2 separate regions of the Homo sapiens genome follow, and region 1 is linked to region 2. The links come from fine-mapping of genetic effects on gene expression. A gene starts in region 2. The other region holds a variant in brackets. All regions are shown on one strand. Distances are from middle to middle. Region 1 overlaps CD4 (CD4 molecule). Region 2 holds the start of GPR162 (G protein-coupled receptor 162).

Region 1 (2,837 bases), 22 kb after region 2:
AATTAAAAAAATTTTTTTTGGCTAGGCATAGTGACACACACCTGTAATTCCAGCACTCTGAGAGGCCAAGGTGAGTGGATCACTTGAGCTCATGAGTTCGAGACCAGCCTGGCCAACATGGTGAAACCCTGTCTCTATAAAAAATACAAAAATTAGCCTGGCATGGTGGTGCATGCCTGTAGTCCCAGCTACTTGGGAGGCTGAGGTGGGATGATGACTTGAGCCTGGGAGGTGGAGATTGCAGTGAGCCGAGATCACACCACTGCACTGGAGCCTGGGTGATAGAACTAGACCTTGTCTCCAAAAAAAATATATATATATTTTTTTTCATAGAGACAGAGTCTCACTATGTTGTTCAGGCTGGTCTTGAACTCCTGGACTCAAGCAATCCTCCGGCCTCAGCCTCCCACAGTGCTAGGATTATACATATGAGTCACTGTGCAAAGTATTATCTACATAGGTCTGTAGCAACAATACTCAAGAAATCACGGGTTTTAAGTGATAGTGATTGTTCTAAAACTCACTAAAATAAGTTCATGAATATTAAATATTAAAATATTGAAATTCACATACCACCTTTCCCTGGGCCACCAGCAGTTGGTGTAGAGAAACTCTGGATAAGAATGCCACTGAGTTTCTGTCAACCCAAGCCCTCTGGGATCCCAGAGTTTAACTAAGACCAGATCTCAGACACCAAAGGCTTTCACTCCATAGTGTGTTTTCCTCCCTGGATGGGGAGCCAGGCAACCCTACCTTTAGTTAAGAAGGAGCCCTGATTTCCCAGAATCTTTATCTGGTTGGAGTTTTTCCAGTGGAATTGTATGCTCTTCTTCTGGGAAGCTGTACAGGTCAGTTCCACTGTATCCCCTTTTTTGCCCAGCACCACTTTCTTTCCCTGAGTGGCTGCTGGGAGGAGCGCTAAGTGGAAAAGAAAGGAGTCAGGTCTCAATGTCGCCGCTGTCCCCCTCTACCCCATCCTCCACCTTTGCCTTTCCTCCCACG[T/C]CATCTGCATTGAGACCCCAGGTCTGAGAACTTACCCAGTTGCAGCACCAGAAGCAAGTGCCTAAAAGGGACTCCCCGGTTCATTGTGGCCTTGCCGAGGGAGGCAGGGGCCTGAGCCAGTAGGGACCTGAGCCCACAGAAATGGCAGGGCCTGAGGGAAATGCCAATCATTAGTCAGCAAACATTTACTGGACCTGGAGTATACAGGGGCGATACACAACCTCTCCCTCAGGACCCTTGCAGCCAGCCTAGTGAACTTGAGGCAGGAGAATAGCAGAGGGAATTGGAGGTTGGATTAAGGAAGGAATGAGTAGGAGCAGAAGCAAGAGAAAGAGGCAGGTGAGCAAAAACAGAAGATAAATAAGTGAATAAGGAGCCCCATGGCTGGCTAGATCCAAACCAAACCAGTTAGGAGCAGCTCCTAAGAGATGGGCATATACTAGGCTGGGTGCGGTGGCTCATGCCTGTAATCCCAGTGCTTTGGGAGGCCGAGGTGGGTGGATCACTTGCGGTCAGGAGTTCGAGATCAGCCTGGCCAACATGGTGAAACCCCATCTCTACTAAAAATACAAAAATTAGCCGGGCGTGGTGGCATGCACCTGTAGTCTCAGGTGCTTAGGAAGCTGAGGCAGGAGAATCACTTGAACCAGGGAGGAGGAGGTTGCAGTGAGCCAAGATTGCACCACTGCAAAAAAAGATGCACATGTACTACAGAGAAAAGATATCCTCAAAATGACCCCGTATAGTAATTAGCTACTTAAGGTTCATGCCTACAGAGTGCATATCATGCATGTACTTAAAACTATGGGAAGGAAATGACACGTAAACACACAGAGGCCAAGAAACTAAGCAACCCACCTGTCAACCAAAAGGCACATGCTGGCTAAAGCTTAGGCAGCTTGAGGAAAAAGAGAAAAAAAACACATAGAAAAGGCCATGAAATATAGCAAAGTGATGCTGATACCATTCGCAGGTCATCCTTGATCCATAGTGGATCGTACTGTGCTTAATAAACTTTTGCTGCTTTGCTATTTGTGTGTGTCATGTCCAATTTTTTGTTTGCGGCACCAACAACTTGGGACTTCACAACATCAGCCAGTAACAAAGTAAACTTGCACACCCCTAACTGGATGCTCTGAGATACACACCACGAAATGCTATGCTCAGGCCAGGAGGGGGTTCTTTGCTGGGATGAGTGAGGAGGGGATCAGAAAAGGATGCATGGAGAAGGTGGCAAATTGGCGGGGAGACCATGGAGCCAGGCCAGGACGTGGAAATGCTTGAAGGCCGTGCTGAGATGCTGGGACTGGATCCTGGGCACTAGAGAGCCAGCAGAGGATTTTCTATAGAGAAGAAGATTATTAGATTTGCCACGTGGACCCCTGCAGCTGCTGAGTGAAAGAACTGGAGGAGGCGAGGCACCAAAGGCAGAACTGCAACCATCCTGGTCAGCAAAGGGCCTGAGCCAAGTGGCTGTAGAAATGTGTGGGACAGTTCTAAGGTGACGTTCCCAAGAATTGGGGCCTGATACAGCGTGAGAGGTATGGGGAAAAGAAAGAGAGATCAGATTGTTACTGTGTCTATGTAGAAAAAGGAAGACATAAGAAACTCCATTTTGATCTGTACTAAGAAAAATTGTTCTGCTTTGAGATGCTGTTAATCTGTAACTTTTGTCCCAACCCTGTGCTCACAAAAACATGTCCTGTATTGAATCAAGGTTTAATGGATCTAGGGCTGCGCAAGATGCACTTTTAAAAAGTTCTTGCCTCACACGTGTAATCCCAGCATTTTGGGAGGCCAAGGCGGGCGGATCATGAGGTCAGGAGATCGAGACC
Region 2 (2,971 bases):
TGGGACCGAAGGGGGTGCTAGGGAACCTGAAGGCGGGGAAACCGCTGACATCAGAAGCATCCAGAAATGGAAAGAGGGGGAACTAGGGAGAAGGAGGAGAGTTTGAGCAGAAGAGAAAGAGGGGGCAAAGTGGTAGTATCTGAAAATAGCAGGAAAAGCTCAAACCCCCTGGAGAGGAGGCTTTGGAGGGAGGAGGGACTGGAGGAGGGAGGGAGGGAGGGAGCAGGGAATAGGAGGCTGAGAAGAAAAGCCAAATGTTCAATAAGGTGCTGACTCCCCGTGGGGAGACCTTGACTCTTCCTCCCTGGCCCAGAGCCTCAGTTTCCCTCTCATGGGAGGAAGGATGGTCCCAGTTTTAGTGCGTGATGCTGAGCTTCAGTGAGCCCTGGGAAGGGGGGTAAGGGAATCGGGTGAAACCCTGAACAGAGTGGGGCTGTAAGGAAGCACATAATGGCTTTAGGGTAAGTGGGGTAAAAATGGGGCACAGCAGTGAAAGGGTCTGTTTCCCATGGAAGCAGCTCAGACCCTTGCTTTCCCCAAGAGGTCCTGGTCCACCCCCACCCTTGGCTTCCCTCCGGAGCCCAGTACACCCTAGTTGCCATGGCAATGGCCAGCCAGAGGGAGGTGGAGGGACTTGGCCAAGAGCAGCCCCCAGTGTCCTCTCCTACAGCCCTGGACCCCTTCCCACCCACCTCCACCCAGGCCCAGCTGGTGGGCTCAGGATGAAAGAGATAGGGAGTCAGAGAGGGAAGGAGGCAGGAAAGATGTGAAGGACAGAGAGAGGGAGGTGAAGGACAGGGAGAGATCAGAGGAAGGTGGGAAGGGGGATCTGGGAGGTTCCCTGGCCGACGGGGTCCCTCGCCCTTTGGGGTGAAGGGGTAAGGTCAGGCGGCTCCTCCCTCCTGTCCCCCTCCAGGTTCTCCAGGGCAGAAACAGCAGGTGGCTGGGGAGGAGGGGCCGGCCTAGGGGAGAGGAGGCAGCTTGAGGGGGAAAGGGAGGCAACACAGGGGACGGGGCAGGCAGGGGTCGTCTTACCTCTCTCCGGCTGCGCCCAGCACTGCCATGGAGACCGCACTCCCGACGCGGCTCTCTCGGGCTCCCGCTGCCTGCCGGCTCCAGCTCGCCCGCCCTCCTCCCTCCTTCCCTCTCTCCCTCCCTCCCTTCCCCCGGGCCTCCCTCCTCCCCCTCAGTCCCGGCCTCCCAGGCTCAGCCCACGGCTCACTCGGTCTCTGCCCCTCTCACTCTCCAGGACCCTCTCTCCCGGGGTCGTCCTGCCAGTGAGCCCAGGCCAGAGGGAAGGCAGGACAGCTTTGTGGGGGGCGGGGGGGGGCGGGAAACGAGTGCAGGGTGGGGAACTGGACGGTGGTGACTCGGGGAGGAGGGGCAAGGAAGGCGCTGAGAGGGAGGGCGGTGAGGAGGATGGCTGGGAACCGGCTTCATTGGTGAAATGGTTCATGTCCTGCCCCCACCCCTTCCCGTTTTCAACACGAACACAAGCTCCAAGAGGCAGCTGGTGTTGTTGGGGACTGAGGAGCTAGCTGTTCGGGGAGGAGGAAGCGTGTGTCACTGTGTGTATCTGTGTGAGGGCTGGGCCTTGGGTTTGGGAGTGAGGGGGCTTGTGGTGCACACTGGGGCTGCTTGTGGAGTTGGGGGTGGTTGTGCACAAGCTAAAAGGATGTGGGCGCATGCATGCACACAGACACACACACTCTGCCTCCTCCTCCTGGAACACAAACACATATGTTGGGGATACAATTTGCACACACATGTTACAGTTTCTCATAGTCCTTTTTCTCTGCCACACACATACACCAGGAGAGCTCACACAACCCTGAGTCTCTCCCCCACGGTATATCACACACATGTAATTACAGAGTCTCAGCCTCACACACACACAGGCCCACACAGAGCCCTGTGGGTTGTGGAGGTGGGTAGCCAGCCTCCACAGAATTTTTCCCTCTCCAGGGAAACTTCATCTCCTTCCTGGGGCACGCCCAGCAACCTCTCCTCTGGGTCCGACCCCAAAGACCAGAAGATTCCTGGTCCCCAGAGAAGGGGTCTCTCTCTCTCTCTCTCTCTCACACACACACACACACACACACACACACACACACACACACGAAGAGCATCTTTATAGTAAGTTTATTGTATTTTTATTTCAGCTCAGGGGAGCAGGGGTGGAGAGTGGGCACAAATGCAAAGTAAGCAAATGGGGAGCCCCAGCAGCAATAGGGGGGTCTTCCTGGAAGAGGCAGGCTTTAAAGACAGGAGGAGAAGGAAATAGGGAAAAGGAGTTGGGACTGAGGGAAGTGGTGAGGAAGGGTAGGAAGAGAGGGGATCCTGAGAGAAGTGGATCAAGAAGATTTGTAACCCTGATTTCCCTGTGTCCTGAATGGTCTGGAGGAGGGTAAGGGAGGGTGTGGGGCAGGCGCAGAGCCTGGCACAATCACCTTTGAGGTCCCTTAGAGGGTTCCCTCTCAGGCTAGCTACCCCCTCTCCCAGCAAAGCTCGCTTCCAGGAGGTTCTGCACAGGGTCAGTGACTGGTCACTGGGCATTCTCTCCTGCAGTGCCTGTGCTCCCAGCTTGCGCTCTGATTAGAAGAGCCAAAGGCTTTGTCCTCTGGTAACAGATTCTGCCACCAGCGGGGGATGAAGGAGGGATTTTAGACAGGGAGGCCTTCATCCCTGCTCGTAAATTCTCTGAGATGGACCCTTCCCATGGGTGCTGTGCTTCTGTGAACCCAAAAGTACACATTGAGTACCCACCACTAGCCACTGGTGAGAGCCGTGTGGCATTTGTCCCTGCATTCAAGAGGCAGCAGTGGAACTTGGGACAAGGGACCTGGGTTAGTCCCGACTCCAGCACTTGCTAGTCCGGCACTTGGTAATCAATCATCTAGCCTCTCTGAGCTCTGGTTCTGGTCTATAAACTGGAGATGATCATCTTAGTTCTGTCACTGCCAGCCTTGTA

What was found.
Region 1: its variant is fine-mapped to the expression of GPR162 in whole blood (TOPMed, PIP 0.97).

Annotation. Positions count from the first base shown.
Region 1 is chr12:6,798,388-6,801,224 of GRCh38, reverse strand. It overlaps CD4 (CD4 molecule), which reads right to left. Exons shown (of 10, transcript NM_000616.5): 2 at 1,038-1,153; 3 at 754-918. The coding sequence starts at 1,086. Among named protein-coding and RNA genes, the nearest start is that of CD4, 10 kb to the right of the region's middle. The variant T/C (reference allele first, on the strand shown) is at 1,003.
Region 2 is chr12:6,819,965-6,822,935 of GRCh38, reverse strand. It overlaps GPR162 (G protein-coupled receptor 162), which reads right to left and starts at 1,115. Exons shown (of 5, transcript NM_019858.2): 1 at 1,036-1,115. CD4 (CD4 molecule) reads right to left here. Exons shown (of 10, transcript NM_000616.5): 10 at 2,137-2,971. RefSeq lists an enhancer at 1,132-2,104.